2 separate regions of the Homo sapiens genome follow, and region 2 is linked to region 1. Evidence: fine-mapped expression QTL. Tissue or cell type: subcutaneous fat. Region 1 holds a variant in brackets; the other region holds the start of a gene. All regions are shown on one strand. Distances are between the middles of the regions.

The links. PIP is the estimated chance that this variant, and not a neighbour inherited with it, causes the effect.
Region 2: P3H2 starts here. The variant in region 1 is fine-mapped to the expression of P3H2 in subcutaneous fat (GTEx, PIP above 0.99). The same link has a PIP of 0.9 or more in pancreas.

The regions. Positions count from the first base shown.
Region 1 is chr3:189,999,867-190,008,134 of GRCh38, reverse strand. The region is part of intron 1 of P3H2 (prolyl 3-hydroxylase 2); the gene reads left to right. Among named protein-coding and RNA genes, the nearest start is that of P3H2, 120 kb to the left of the region's middle. The variant A/C (reference allele first, on the strand shown) is at 4,333.
Region 2 is chr3:190,116,133-190,124,132 of GRCh38, reverse strand. P3H2 (prolyl 3-hydroxylase 2) reads left to right here and starts at 3,236. Exons shown (of 15, transcript NM_018192.4): 1 at 3,236-3,881. The coding sequence starts at 3,402. P3H2-AS1 (P3H2 antisense RNA 1) reads right to left here and starts at 3,169. Exons shown (of 4, transcript NR_126419.1): 1 at 3,044-3,169. RefSeq lists an enhancer at 2,850-3,029 and silencers at 2,999-3,293, 3,240-3,469, 3,680-3,759.

The DNA of each region.
Region 1 (8,268 bases):
CTATACTTATCTTATTCATGTAAGTATATTAGGGAAGCAGATGTCACAGCAGATGAAGAGCTATTTCAATATCTGCATTCGGGATTCTGGGATCACTTAGGTCATTATTTTATAATTAAAGTCATTCATCAACGTTACTGAAGTTTACTATATATATATATATATATATGTGTGTCAACAAATAGAGTCTCAGGCAGCTGATTAGTTTTTTGAGCCAGTCTGAAGCAGACTAGAAGGTTTTTGGCCGAAAGAGTTTGAAAAATGTGAAATACAGTGTCCCATTTACACAGATTAACTGTTACAGTAGTACATAAAAAAAAAAAAATCTGAACGCTGTATCCTAAAGAAATGTGTTTAACTCTTACTACAGTTCATCATACCCTTTGTTAATTATAAAAGCATTTTTATAAGTCTTATGAACATCTAGGGCAATACATTTCTTAGCAAGGTAAGGGCTGACAAACATCAAAATAAACATTTTTTTTTCTGTCCTTCTTGGTTGCTCTAACTTATTTATAATAATAGATTGCTCCTTCATTTAGGAAACTCTTCTCTCTGGCTTTCTGTCTGGGAAAAGACCTCAAGTATGTCTCAAGTGAAGACTTTGCTCGATATTTGGTTGATCAGATCTCTTGTCAAGATGCTTGACTTCTAGGAAGATGTACTTATTTGGATGCCTTTTCATTATATCAAACACAAACTAGCTCAAAGTGAAATGAAAAATTTCTCCAACCCACAACCAAAATTTGTAGCCACCTAAAAAATACTATTTCCATTGCTATTACCACCATATTCCAAGTTAACTAGTTTTGAAATTTTAAGCATGCCTTTAGCTTTGCATTTCCCTTTGACCAACTTACTTCTCTGTTATATGAGAAAGAGAAGTACAAGGGTTTCCCCAAAATTTTGCCTCTTCTCCAGTATCCCTTTACTCCCACTTAGTCCTACAACAACCAGGCTAATGTTTCCACAACTAAAAGGATATTATAAAGTTTATCATAGGCCTCCAGTCTTACACTCTCCTCCCTGCCAATGAGGAAGTTCTCCCTGCCAATAAGTGAAATTTTACCTCACGTATTTTAGTTTTTACTTTTCACAGCCCTTTTTGGAATAAGAGAGATATATTTTTATGACTACATTCACAAACATGCACATATAGATAATGCATAGATATATCTATCTGTTTCCCCTTTTCCGGGAATAAAAAGCAAAACAACTCACCTTAGTATCAAAGATCCCCATAATCCAGTCCTGTTCCACCTTGTTTCCCATTACTCTGGAATCGAAACCTTCCACATGAGCCACGTTATCCAAAACACTATCTTATAAATAGATCTGAGACATTTCTGCTGTAACATTACTATTCTGCAGCTGGGACATCCACATGTTTTCTGTTTTTCAAGACCCTCAGTCCTACTTTCTCAGTGAGTCCTTTCCTGAACCTTCCAGGTTACTGTGATTTCACATTTCTCCTAATTTTTACAGCATTATATTGCCTGCCACCCACCCACTCTGCCCTAAAAGCTTGTAAATTCCCAGTTCTTGATATCAATAGTCTGTGTATGTCTTCTTGTCCTAACTGGGCTATATTTACTAAAAGATTAGGATCCTGTCACATTTATTTTGTATCCTCAGACACTTGTCATCTATCACAGTTCTATGACTGAAGTGACCAGCAAACCTGTTACATAAACAAGACATGCACAAACTCACCTCTACTTTGAAATAGTGGTGACTAAAATCCCAAGTGTCTATTTGTGAATGTTTGTTTTAATCGAAGAGGTAGCTTCTAATTATACTTCTGCTGCTAATATTCTAGGCAGGTTCTTTATCCACCTGTAAAATGAAACAGTGGGACTATATGATATAAATAGTCTATCCAGCCCTAGTCTTCTATAGACTTAATTGCAATTAGTATTTATAAGATCAATGCAAGTGCCACAAAAATAACAGGACTGATGCTACTCGATATGTTTAGTCAGTAAGTAGATCTCTCCCAAACTTTAGCTTTCTCTAGAATTTACATGGACTAGAACTTTCTTTCTAATATAGTCTCTTGGCTGAGGTACAAAGAAAATGTTTGAGTTTATATTTAACCTGGATATATGGTAGGGATATTTCATATACTGTACAGCCTGAAGGTTATTGCTGTGGCTGGATACTTATAAAAGTGCAGGTGTGATGCCAGAGGAATGTATGAAACATTGAAATGAAAGAACTCTATCATGAAAACCATCTCTTTAGTAAGAGCATGTGGCCTGTCAGGTTAGGAGTACCCATTAGTGAGCTTGATGGGTGACATACCTGCAGAGACCTTAGTCTCCTCTTAAAGATTCCTCCAGGAGGGGTCTTTGGAATAAAATTCCCCTTGGCTTGCAGCCACGATGCATTCCTTTGCATGAGCTGAAATGAGTGTTTGGAAATAACTTTTGAAGTAAATCTTCCCACTCCTATAAAAGCAAGAGTTTATATTTCACAGAAGAACGTGGCGTATTTATACCAAAAAGGTACAAGTGGAAAGGCTTTTGATTTACTTGTTTGCTTTTCTTGCATTGCTCACAGTAAAGCGATTTGAGTGGAATGTTAAGTTTGTTTCATAAACACAAAATGGAAGGGAGACCAAGCATGTTGGAAATTATAATGACAGAATTTATTTGTACATTCACTAAACCCTAAAAGCCTCCTCAAATAATCAAATTTGCCAAGCTATTTTCAGTGTTATCCTAGCATTGTTACAATTTAAAACAGGCCAGGGCCCAAATGATTACTTCTTCTCCCTGATCTATATGCCCCCATGCAGTCTACTCAGGAAACATGTGGACTTACAGGAGAAACACTAAATAAACCCATACTTTGATTCCCAGTGCTTGTGACAAGCATTTGATGTCTGAGGCTTTGTCATTTCACAAAACAATGTTGCAGACACAGCAACAAACTTTTGAAATTTTTTTTCATATTCTCAAGATCAGAAAAATCATTCCCAGGCTTGCATTAAGCTATTTCACTGCTGATTTTCAAAAAGCTATCTTAGAAACAGAAATCCATAGTTAATTGCCATTTTGCTATCATAATTGACAAATTCAAATGATTTGTGACATATGATTTTTGACAAATGATTTGTGACAAGTGATTTGTGACAAATTCAAATGATTGTGACATACAGTTTGAGGAAAAAATGTGATCTGGCTGCTATTGGTTGTAGAGACATAACTGTGGTAGTGAACAATTAGGAAGCTGACTTTTAGCTGTAGTAAATTGATGGCCAGCTAAAATTTTTTTTTTAATTGAGTCACTCGGGAAAGACAACGTTTTTCCCCCTTTATTATAATGAAAACCAGGCAAAATATGAGTCAAGTGTTATCACAACAAAATTTGTTTTTGTATCCTAAAGTTCATTAAGGGGAACTCTGTCCCTGGACAAGTTTTGACTTGGTGCTATAAATTATTGTTCGTGGCCAGGCGCGGTGGCTCACACCTGTAATCCCAGCACTTTGGGAGGCCGAGGCGGGCGGATCACAAGGTCAGGAGATCGAGACCATCCCGGCTAAGACGGTGAAACCCCGTCTCTACTAAAAATACAAAAAATTAGCCGGGCGTGGAGGCGGGCGCCTGTAGTCCCAGCTACTCGGGAGGCTGAGGCAGGAGAATGGCGTGAACCCGGGAGGCGGAGCTTGCAGTGAGCCGAGATCCCGCCACTGCACTCCAGCCTGGGCGACAGAGCGAGACTCCGTCTCGAAATAAATAAACAAATAAATTATCGTTTGTATCATAACGTACCCTTGTCAATAATTACCAGCCACTTTCTGCGCTGGTCCTGAAGTAGAGGTAAGGGCTCATCTAGCTTTTTGAAGCTGTCCTCTTGGGCAGACAAACTCAATAAATGGCCATTTTTATTTCTCTTATTTTTATTACTAATATTATAAAATGCTTTGCCAACTATATAAAACATACAACCTATATGACAAATGCAATTTTTATTATTGGCAACCTCACAAGTTAGATTGTGCTCACCAATACAGAGGTCATGTATAAGAGGAGTAGAGTTCTGTACTCACATAGAGAAACATTGGATTTCTATTTATTTATTTTTCAAAATCTGACATGAACTAGATTCTTGAGATGTTAAAGTAATGACTACTACCATAGTCATGGGATGCTGGCAAAGCTAAGGTATGAAATTAATGACAACTACCTTCAGAATAAACTTTGAAAAGGATTAAAGCAGATTCCAAAAACAGTAGCAGGAAACAAATGTCAGCAAGGTCTTGGCCCACACTGCTTTTCGGTAACCATTAGTCATCATCTGACACCTCAAGGGAGAGTGCTGGACAA[A/C]CACTGCAGAGGTTAAGATCCCTGCCCAGTTATTCAGTCTTACCCTGTCCTAGCATTTAGAACCAAAAACAACAGTAACATACCAATAGACCATGCACACTAACTTCATTCGACCCGAGGCAGAGACGACTTGTCTACCTTCCATCACTAAGATAATGTGCTCTCCTTCTTACCCAGCAGCCATTCAAATTTTGGCTGTTCCCTTGGTAGGAAGTTAGACAATACACAGATGACTTGAGCGATTTTGTCTAATTCAAAGCACACACTTATTTCTGGCTAATACTTAGATAGTTTTTTTTTTTTTTTTAACATCAAGGGCATTTCATTTTTAATAGTCTCTAATCGGAAATAGTATGTTTAAAAGTTCTGTGTCTTCACTTTAATGTTTTCCTTACCCAGAAAGATGGTTTCTATTTAGATAAGAAATCTTCTAGAAAGCTGATGGAATCTGTTGTTTCACGGAGCTCCTAAGAGTATCCTCATTTGGCCATGGCTATTCACCATTAGTGTTTAACACTAAAATGTAAACATCAAGACTAAAACTTCACTAGAGTGTTTAAAAAAGCAGGAGTCTATTAATCAGAATCAGGACCATAAGTAATTGAGGGAAAGAGCATAAGCAGTTTGGCAAAAGAAAGCACTTTAAGAAAGCATGTTCATTCTTCCTTTCCAACTTACTCCACAGAGGAAATATTACTCTTCAGAAACGTCATTTCCATTTAATCCTTACCAAATTGCATTTTGAAAACGATAAATAGTTACTTATACCTATGACTGTATTTTAGAGTGACATTCCATAAATGCAAAGATAAGTTCATTTTCTACATTAGCATGGCCACCTAACTTGTGAATTAACATGTGTTCTTCAAAGCTAGAAATTTTAAAATGTTCTGCCTTGAGATGTAGAAAAGGAATATATTGTATAAAAATCTCCCTTACTATGGGAGTATATATTTTAAATAGGTTGTACCTTTTGTATGTCCCTGAGTTTCCTTGCTAAGGCAACTATTTGTATAGTTAGATTTTTGAAATGGAAACAAAAACACTCAAAGAAAAAAGTGAAATATGCCAGCTTTAGTTTGACACATTAGAAACCCAACATAATGCCGGGCACGGTGGCTCACGCCTGTAATCCCAGCACTTTGGTAGGCCAAGGTGGGCGGATCACGAGATCAGGAGTTCAAGACTGGCTTGGCCAACACGGTGAAACTCCATCTCTACTAAAAATACAAAAATTAGCCGGGTGTGTTGGCGCGTGCCTGTAATCCCAGCTGCTTGGGAGGCTGAGGCAGGAGAATTGCTCGAACCCAGGAGGCAGAGATTGCAGTGAGCTGAGACCATGCCATTGCACTCCAGCCTGGCAACAGAGCGAGATTCCAACTCAAAAAAAAAAAAAGAAAAGAAAAAAGAAAGAAAGAAACCCAACATAATATAATATAGTTACTGTAAATGACAGTGAATGCAATTCTGAGCTTCCCAGTAGTCAAGGCAAAAGGTGCAACAGAATATATTAGGTAGTTCTCTATGGATGTTAAAATTAATTTTATAAATTTGTCAGGAGATATAAACTGTTTTTTCTTATAACTGAATTGTGAAAATTTCAAATATGGATCTTTTTACAAGTTATATTAATGTATTAACATCATCAGTAACTGTGAAATAAAATGCAAAGTTATTTGCTATATGGCTATTATTTTACTCCAAAAATCTGACTCTGCTATATAGAAATGTTTAGGAATGTCCTAAAATAAGATTAAATTCTCATTCATAAGCCCATACTTTACATTTAAATACTGTAATTTACAGGATTTCGTTTAATTCAGTAGGTTGAACAAACTGCTTCCAAATTTTATTTCAAAATTTGATGTTTTGTAAATTTTAAGAATATTCTTTTAATATATTATTCATATTGTAAGAAATGTATTTATTTATTTGGTTCTATGAAGAAAAATTAACTCAAGTTGGCAAAAATTCGAGTAAATTTGGAGACTTTTTAGCAAGTAATGAAATGTCTACAAATGTGCCTTGTGACATGTGTATGTATATGAGTGTATACACACACACATCTTACAGGTTCATCAAAGGATGAATTTGGTTGTTTAGTGTGATATACATGCTGTAATTTGATGACTTCCTTTCTCTCTAGCTGTTGTGCTTATGCTGCTAGCTAGAGCTTAGAACTTGCGCTGTGGCTTAGAAACAGGATGTCTTCAGTGTCAGCTTACATGCTTGTCACTTGGGAGTTAAAAATCTCTAAAGTTACTATATTGTGAAATTTAAGTAAAAAAACGAAGGCAAAAACCATAGCACTTCATTAAAATGTAATGGATAAATTCCCAAAGTTAGGGTGACGAAAGTAGAAAAAGAATTCATTCATTTATTGAAAATGTTGATGTTTGAGAATAATGGAAATTACTTATTTTACGCTTGATGTTTTACTCTGTACAAAAAACCTTCAAAAGAGTAAAAAGTGCTGCCAAATATTCTATTTGAGAAGTACATAGTGGTATTTCCATGTTTTAATGTGCTTTAGAATTATTAGCCCCTTTTCTTTGTTGCACGTGCCTTACAAGTTGTTCTTAATTTCGTATTCAAAATATTTGAGCTACATATCCTAATTCAGAAAATAGGGAACTTACATATTTTCCACACAAAATCTTTGGAAATTTTAGAAGCGTTTCCTTTTGTGTTACGTGTTTGCCTTCTGAATTGAGAAACATTGTTAGAGCAAGGATGGGCAAAATAGACGAAGAGAAAGGAATCGAGGCAGGAAATGGAAGGAAAGTAAAACAGGCAACTGACTTACGCTGTGCTGCATTATTTTGCAAAGTAAAAGCATCATCTCTGACTGATTACTGCAGTGCTCTTCTGCCCTCTAGGAAGATCTGTTTTCCACAAAGAAGTTTGAATTATCATTTTAAAATGTGTATCAGATCTGATTATATCCCTCCTTAACATTTTTTACTGTTTCCTTGTGCACTTAGAATGACATTTAAACTCTACCATAGCCTATACAAATGATCCGTCCTTCTCTAACTTCTAAAATCTCCCTCCTTGATCTCTGCTCTGCTTTGAAAACACATCAAGCCTTTTTCCACTTCAGGCACCTTTCACTTGACTTTCTTTGGCCTGGAATGCCCTTCCTCTTGTTCGGTTCATGCCTGGCTTCTCAACTTTTAGGTCTCAGCTCAAAAATTACATTGAAGAGAAATCTTTGATGAATGAATCTAAAGGAGTTCTCCTTCCAGCCCAGTCCCAGTCAGTGCTCACAACTTTGTTCATTATTTCTTCATAGCACTTAATACAATCTGAAATTACTTTCCTTACTTATTTATTTACTTGGGATTTGTCCCCTTCTATGAGAATGTCAACATTTGTTATAGAAAGGAGGGCCTTTGTCTGTCTTGACCACGTAGGTATTCTGTTTAGTGTCTGATACAGAGTTGGTGCAAAATAAATATTTGCTGAATAAGTAAATGGGTGAACTAATGAACTGGGGCATGACTGGAGAATTGGACCTATGTGTGTGTTCTTGAATAGGCGGGTGGTAAGTTTTAAAACTTAGAGAAGTTCAGTTTCTCTGGAAAGAGTTGGTATAATGGCAGAGAGGAAGAAGTGATGCCAGGAAAAACAGAGCCAAATCCCAGAGTTCTTGAATGTCATGATGTGGAGTGTCTGAAATCTGTTTTCTAGTCAATGGATGACTACTGGAGATTTTTGAATAGTCAATGTGTGCTTTAGCAATCCGTCCTTTATTACTAGCTATGGAAAACTCTTTCTGTGTCAGAGGAACCTCATTCACTCACAGGTTCAAGGACAGTGTAACTTCTGAACGTCAGCAGGCTGTTGATTTAGTCAATGTTCATTTCTTTGTCCATACAGTATGACTACCACGTAGTCATGCTTCTGGGCTGGCAAGAGAAAATGTTTGCCTTA
Region 2 (8,000 bases), 120 kb before region 1:
TTGTCCTGATCCAGCCTTAAAAAGCAGATCAGATTGGCTTTCCTGGGAGGGAATATCTGGGGGATTACACAAAACCCTACCTATTCTCCAAACCCTACCTACTCATGAATTCTACACAGCACCTGGAACCCCAACTCATAGACTTATTCTTTGGGCTGTGGCATTAGCTGTAGACCTGTGGTTCTCAACCTTGGCTTCGTATTATAATCACCTGGGAAACTTCTAAAAATCCCATCGCTCAGGTCATATCCCAGACCAATAAATCAGAATCTTTCAGAGCAGAAGCCAGACACTTCTTAGGTGATTCTAATGTTCAAGCAAATTTGAGTTGTCAATGAATAGTTTCTCTCAAGTCAGGCAGAGATTGTACGTAAGGTAGTAATACAAGGCATATTACTTACTTACTACTTGTAGTAAGATATAAGAAATAAGGTAGTAGGACATACAAGAGGCTTGAAAGAACCTGGCCAATTTGGCAATCAGTAGGATGTGGTTGCATTCTATAGGCTATTGACTGTGTGCTAATGCCAATTATTTCCCTAAGTCTTTTTAGATCCTTCTAGCCAGAAGCTATCTTTGTAACCTCTGTGTTCCCAGAGCTCTTTTTTCTTTCTTCTTCTTTTTTTTTTTTCTTTTTGTTTTTTGAGACTGAGTCTCACTCTGTGGCTCAGGCTGGAGTACAATGGCGCGATCTTGGCTGACTGCAACCTCTGCATCCCGGGTTCAAGTGATTCTCCTGCCTCAGCCTCCTGAGTAGCTGGGATTAAATGTGCCTGCCACCACGCCCAGTTGATTTTTGTATTTTCAGTAGAGACGGAATTTCACCATGTTGGCCAAGCTGGTCTCCAACTCCTGAGCTCAGGTGATCCACCTGCCTCGGCCTCCCAAAGTGCTGGGATCACAAGTGTGAGCCACTGCGCCCGGCCAACACTTTCAATCTAATCTAACACGTACCACATTCTACCTTGTATTATAGCTGTATACATTATATATATCAAATTTGTTTCCTATACAGTACTGTGAGCTTCCCAAAGGTAAGAATCCTGACTTATCTTCTCTTTCACCTAGAATATTTACTTTAAGAGTAGGCATCAAAAATTGTTAATTTAATTGAAATATATTAAATGATGTAGAAATGTCACCAAATGTACAAATAGAATGTAGCAAGGTATCCTGGCACTTTGCCCTCAGTCCCACAGCAGGAGTTCCTATCCTGATGTGCTTCAAAACCTTCCACAAGTGGACTGATAACCCTGGACTAGACTCCAAAATCTTTATCTGAAAACAGACAATCTCTAGAGAAAAAGTCTGGGCAGATGACTGATGTGCTAATTCTGGAACACTGACCATCCAAGGCATTCAATATACATTCAGCTCCAAACTGGAGCTTTTTCATCAGTGATATGAGCCGAATTAGTAACGTTTGGTGGGAAAAAAAAAGAGCATGATTCATCAGTGTCTCTTGGAATTACACAGCCAGGGCTGTTCATGGCCTGAGTGGTCAAACCTAACAAAATGAATGAAGGAATCAGCATGAATCTCTGGCAAGCCCCTCAGCGTAGTGGTGATTCCACATAAAAGCCTTCTTCGGAAAAATCATAGCAACTAGATACATGCGTGAGTCTTTTTCCCATTGCCTGTCCCTCTGCTCACCATTGCAGGGGCTGAAAGACTGATGAGATTCTCACAGGCACTAGAAGACCACAGAAATGCCTCCAGGAGGCAGGCTGGGATCCAGGGTCCAACCAATATTCTTGTGAGAGTGTGAAGCCAAGGAACACGAAAGAGGGGAACACCTTGGCTAAGAATGTATTCGTGACAGAGGAGAAGGGGAGGAACAGGAAGCCTCCAGCTAGTCGTTTGGAATCTGGCAACCATTTCTGTCAGCTTTCTCATTCCTAGATTGATGCAGATTGCTTAATTCCTTGAGGTAAGGGATATACTAAATTGCCTCTTTGTTCAACTCTTAGAATAAGAATTTCCCTCTCCTCTCCCGTCCCCTCCCCTCCCCTCCTCTCCTCTCTTTTCTTTTTCTTTGTTTTTTTTGTTTTTGAGACGGAGTCTCACTCTGTCACCCAGGCTGCATGATCTCAGCTCACTGCAACCTTCACCTCCCAGGTTCAAGCAATTATCCTGCCTCAGCCTCCTGAGTAGCTGGGTCTGCAGGCACGTGCCACCACGCCCAGCTAATTTTTGTATTTTTAGTAGAGACGGGGTTTTGCCATGGTGGCCAGGCTGGTCTCGAACTCCTGACCTCAGGTGATCCACCCGCCTTGGCCTCCCAAAGTGCTGGGATTACAGGGGTGAGCCACTGCACCTGGCCCACAGCAAGAATTTTTTTCTGAATAGCATTTTACGTGTTAGGCGTCTGGCTGTTTAGGAGATGAGGAAACTGAGGCCCTCAGTTGCCAAGGTCACACAGCTGGTAAACGGACGGAGCCAGAATGCGAGTACAGCTCCTCCTGCCTCCAAAGGTTCTCTGGGCCCTGTAAAACCACGGGCTGCACAGGAAAGGCAGGCTATATATTGTTCTTCCCCTGGCCCAGCGCCCTGATCCAATGCCCGGACACACATCCACACCAAGTTGGACGAAAAGGTAAGGGAGAAACCTTCCCCAAGAGAAGAAGCGGTAAGCTTTGGTTCTAAAGGCCCTGGGTTGGGTCCGTCCTTTGCCACTTCTCAGCTCTATGCATTTAGGCAAATCACTTATCTTCTTAAACCTCCGCATCTGGGCCTACAGGGCCTCTATGGGTTTTTTTTCTATTTATTTATTTATTTATTCTTTTTTTTTTTAACTTTACGTTCCGGGATACACGTGCAGAATGCGCAGATTTGTTGCGTAGGTACACATGGCATCTACGGTTTGATTCAGTCTGAAATGGCGCTCCAGGCTTCATTTAGAAGGTGAAGCACTCTGCAAACTGCGAGGCCATACAGAGATTCCAGAATATGATTAAGGCCCTAACCTTGCTAAGCTGGATTTTCTTTATTTCCCAAAAAGAAGACTAATACTATCCACTTGTACAACCAGAAGGGAGCTCACGTGTAAAGCGCCTCGTCCCCGGCCGGCCTCAAGCGGCGCTAGCTCTCTGGCTGGCGCTGGAGTGTGCCGCCCCTGGCAGCCCCGCCGCTGCAGCGGGGAGCCTGGGAGAGCGGCTCTCGGAGTCTCAGGCAGCAGGAGGAGCGTGTGAGCTGTGGGCGTCCCTTTAAGAGCGGCTGGCCAGGCACGGCCTCCGCCTCTCAGTACGCGGAGCGCCGGCGGTCACCTGGGGCTCGCGGAGCGGCCAGATCGCGGCGGAGTCGGCGCGCTTCCCCGAGGGAAGGTGGGAGAGGGGACCCGGACGCGAGGTGCCCCGAAGCCCTCTCGAGCGTAACCGTCCCGCGCCTCTCTGAGGCGGAGGATGCGGGAGCGCATCTGGGCGCCGCCGCTGCTGCTGCTGCTGCCGCTGCTACTGCCGCCGCCACTGTGGGGCGGCCCCCCGGACAGCCCACGCCGGGAGCTGGAGCTGGAGCCCGGGCCTCTGCAGCCCTTCGACCTGCTCTACGCCAGCGGCGCGGCCGCCTACTACAGCGGAGACTACGAGCGAGCGGTGCGCGACTTGGAAGCGGCGCTGCGCAGCCACCGGCGCCTGCGGGAAATCCGCACGCGCTGTGCCCGCCACTGCGCGGCGCGCCACCCGCTCCCGCCCCCGCCCCCCGGCGAGGGCCCCGGCGCTGAGCTGCCCCTTTTCCGCTCCTTGTTGGGGCGGGCGCGCTGTTATCGCAGCTGTGAGACCCAGCGCCTCGGGGGCCCCGCATCCCGCCACCGCGTCAGCGAGGATGTGCGCAGCGACTTCCAGCGCAGAGTGCCCTACAACTACCTGCAGCGGGCCTACATCAAGGTACCCACAGAGCGCTCCTCCACTGCAAAGCCCCTGCGGCTCTCACACGCTCTCTTGAGCCCTCCCTGCTGCCCCCGTCATCTCTGTTCAGTCTTTCGAATTGGGTCTCCTTAAATATGTGTCTCAGTTTGTGAATCCAGATATCTGGTGGCCCTATCTCTGTATGCAACAATTGATTAACTTGGACAAGTCTTTTTCTCTCTTTCTCAGAGCCAGCTTCTCTCTCAAAAAGAGGACTGTCCTGATAAGGTGATGTTTAAAGTACCCATTCAGCACTAATTCATGAGGCATTGACAAAGCTGAATCTAGTACAATTTATCTTCTCCCTTCTCACTTCCCATTTCTCTTCTCCCTTCTCACTTCCCATTTCTCTTCTCCCTTCTCACTTCCCATTTCTTTTGTCTCCTCTCTCTTATCCTTCCTATACTGTAGTCTGCACCTTTTCTCTGAAGTTTAAAAGAATCTTCAAAATAGTGAAGTTGAAAGACCTGTTCCAAAACAAATTTCTCTCTCTTCTCCCCTTCACCTACAAAAAAGTAAAGATCAAAGGTTAAAGAGAAGGTATGCTTGGAGGAGGCGAAGCTGTTTGAGGCAGTCTCAGTCAAAGTATCCACCCTAAGTGTTGACTTTTTCTCCTTTGATAGAGGGCTTACGTTTTCTGGTGGTATGCATTGGACTGGGTTACTAGGCATCAGTCCTCTCTTTCTAGTTTTATTTTTGTATGCCTAACTTGCCTAAAGTTAGCGTCAGGAGGTATAGTATGCATATTGACATATTGTTCACATCCATAACTTTGAAGATCTCTCTGGATGCTTCAGCAGAGGGAATTTGAATGAGTTCTTCAACCTCCACTGCCACTCACCCAATTTTCCTTCAAATTGACACTCTTAACCCTTCTTTCTCGTTTTCTGTGTTAATATATCAATGTATCTTCTACAGCTACCGGAAAAGTGGAAGCTTTGGGGTTGGTTGTTCATGCTAGCCAATGGACCAGGCTGCTCTGCTCTGCTCTGCTCTGCTGTGCTCTGCTTTGCTTTCTTTTCTCCTCTCCTCTCCCCTCCTCTCCTCTCCTCTCCTCTCCCCTCCCCTCCCCTCCCCTCCCCTCCCCTCCCCTCTCCTCTCCTCTCTTCCTTTTCTTTTCTTTTTTTGACGGAGTTTTGCTCTTGTCACCCAGGCTGGAGTGCAGTGGTGCAATCTGGGCTCACTGCAACCTCCGCCTCCCGGGCTCAAACGATTCTCCTGCCTCAGCCTCCTGAGTAGCTGGGATTACAGGTGTGCACCACCATGCCGGGCTAATTTTTGTGTGTGTTTGTGTATTTTTAGTAGCGAAGGGGTTTCACCATGTTGGCCAGGCTGGTCTCGAACTCCTGACCTCAGGTGACCCGTCCGTCTCCGCCTCCAAAAGTGCTGGGATTATAGGCGTGAGCACGGCTGGACCAGGCTGTGTTTCTAAGGAGATGAAAGTACATACCATGTTCAAATATCCAAATGCCTTTTGCAGCTCATCCCACAAGATCTCTGCCCTCATCTGTGGTAGGGTTCTCTCAGATTGGCAACTGTTGGTGGAGTGCACGAAATTTCAACTAAGTATAAATCTTAACTTCCTTGTGTTGTGGCTAAGGTGTTGGAGTTCACTGGACTAGTATCTTGGGCAAGAAATGAGGAGAAAGTCTGAATCCTTTCCAGGACTTGTCTTCTGCTTGCTTGTGCCTCCTGATTGCTAAGGCATGTATGAAGTATAACTCTAATTTCTTCTAAGTGATTTACACAATTTCTGGTGGTCTTACAGAAATCAGTCAACACCAGGCAGAGAGGGGACCTTGAGTGTCTGACGGTGAAGTTATCATAAGCTAGTTCCCAGAGCAGAACATGGGTGGTCCCTGTAGCTTGGTCCTCCCAGGAGTCTCGGATGTAAGGTTAGCAGTCCTGCTGTTAATTCTGTCACAAATTTTGGACATATTTTCCTTTCTCATATCTGGAGAAAGAATACATAGTCAAGGTCAGTCCTATAAAAACAAATAACCATGAGGTAACTCTCAATATGTGGGTTTCCCTGGTTCTGGAATTCTGCTTGCTTCACTGTTAATGTCAGCATTTGTCAGTCATTTCCCCTCCGGTTCCCTGGTTGGAGGTCAAAGAAGGTGAAGCCATAGGTTTAACATACCTCAAATTTTTGTGGTGAATTGATTACAGGAACAAGTCACACTCTGTAAGTGAATTACTGGGTGTTGTCTGATGAATTAATGAAGTTTAAGAAGTTCTTTCAAAGATCCGTGGCTTCGTGTGTTCATTTCAGTTCTACCAGCAATATTTCTGAGAGCAGAACAAGTCTTGCGTCTTCTCCCTACTTCTCTTCTCTGGCAGTTTCTTGGATCTACATAATTGATAATCTCTTAAGAAGAAAATATTTTATCCTTTTGGAAATTCGTTTTTGAAAGTTGGAGTTTGTGAACCTCTAAAACTGCATCATGGTTTTTCTCTCCCCTTCACCCCCCTCCCCCAGCCCCCAAGAAAGCCCCAGTTTTAGCCTTTGCTTGGCTTCCTTGGAATTTCACTTATGAATACGCACACACACCATCTTTTGAGACTGAAAAAAAAAAAAAAAACCTCTCAAATAATAAAAGAACATCCTGGAGCTCTGACAGGTCTGGATTCTAGGGCATTGATTCCCTGATGTTAGGATGAGGAACTCCCTGCCATGTGACTGGATATGGTCATGGTGCCCTGTATTGTTTAATTGCTTTTGACATCAGTGATCCAGTTTGCACTTAAAAGGATAATCCTGGACTAGATCAAATTCAGTGAGGGAGGACTGGAATGCTTCATAAAGCTAAGAAAGTACAATTATTCTCAGCTAAGAGATTTTCCAACTATAGAAGCTCTCAGGAGATGTTACTGCTCCCCCAAATCCTGCTGAGTGGGCCTCCGATGAAAGCAGATTATTTGTGCTGGTGTGTTGGAGGGGAAGAAGGATGAAAAATCATGAAATCTGAGACCCAATGAGTTCAATTTCTTGGTTCACAGATGAGGAAAGGGATGTTTCTAAATGTTTAATAGAAAGGTAAAGAGGTTTGCTCAGTGTCACATATTTAGTGGCATACCAAATGATCTGTTGAAATGAGCACAGGGCTGGGAGTCAGGAGTCTGGATTCTTCCAATAACTGATTCCGATAGCTTTCCTGTGCCCACTGGCCTGTAGGTTCACATCAGGTCCCAGAGAATGCTGCATACCCCAGGGCTATCCTTATGCCAGATTTGGACAGCTCCAGGGATGAGTATATCCTTGTCTTGCAGGGTAACAGATACTCACTACATCTTTCATGAGCCTTGCTCTGTTGAATTTTTTCAAGGCCTGGCATGTTGGGAATTTGCCTAGACAGCTATGAGGCAGTAGTTTCACGTGGCTCCTAGCCATACTTTTTGTTTAAAGGCAGTGTGAGACTCTTCAAACTTTTGATTTTTATCATTTAAGATTGTTAGAGATAACCCATGATTCATAGCCTAAGACGTAATATATAGCTTTTATCATTGCATTCTCTGCTCAGAAACCTTCAGTGGACTTCCTCTTGCTACCATATAAAGCTCAAATAGGTTACCATAGCATCCACAGCCTGGCTCCCTCTCAACCTTCCCAGTCCTATCTTCCCCAACTCTGCCGCCTTCCAGCCAAAGGTAACAATGAGTGCTTTGTCTTATGCCTGACACTTCTGCATCTCTTGGCCTTGTTTAGTCTTTCTTGGGAGGTGTAGAGGCTTTAGAATGGATAGATATGGGATTAATTTTTAGTTTTCCCAGTCTCTATCTGTGTGACTGTCAGCAAATTCCATAAGATTTTTCAGCTTTAGTTCTCCCATCTGCAAAATGGGGAAATAATGGGGCCTACGTTCCTATTTTAAGTTAAGTTTAAGAGATGAGTGATGTAAAGCACCCAGCATAGGGCCTGATTCTCAGTAACCATTGGAGATACATTTATTCTTTTTATTAGTTAAAATAGTAGACCTTTCCTCTTCCTCTTCTACATGTTCAAATCATAACTATCCTAACATATAAATGCACCTATTTCTGTGAGTTCTTCCTTCACTCCATCTACAACTCCCAAAAGTATACCATTTCTCCATT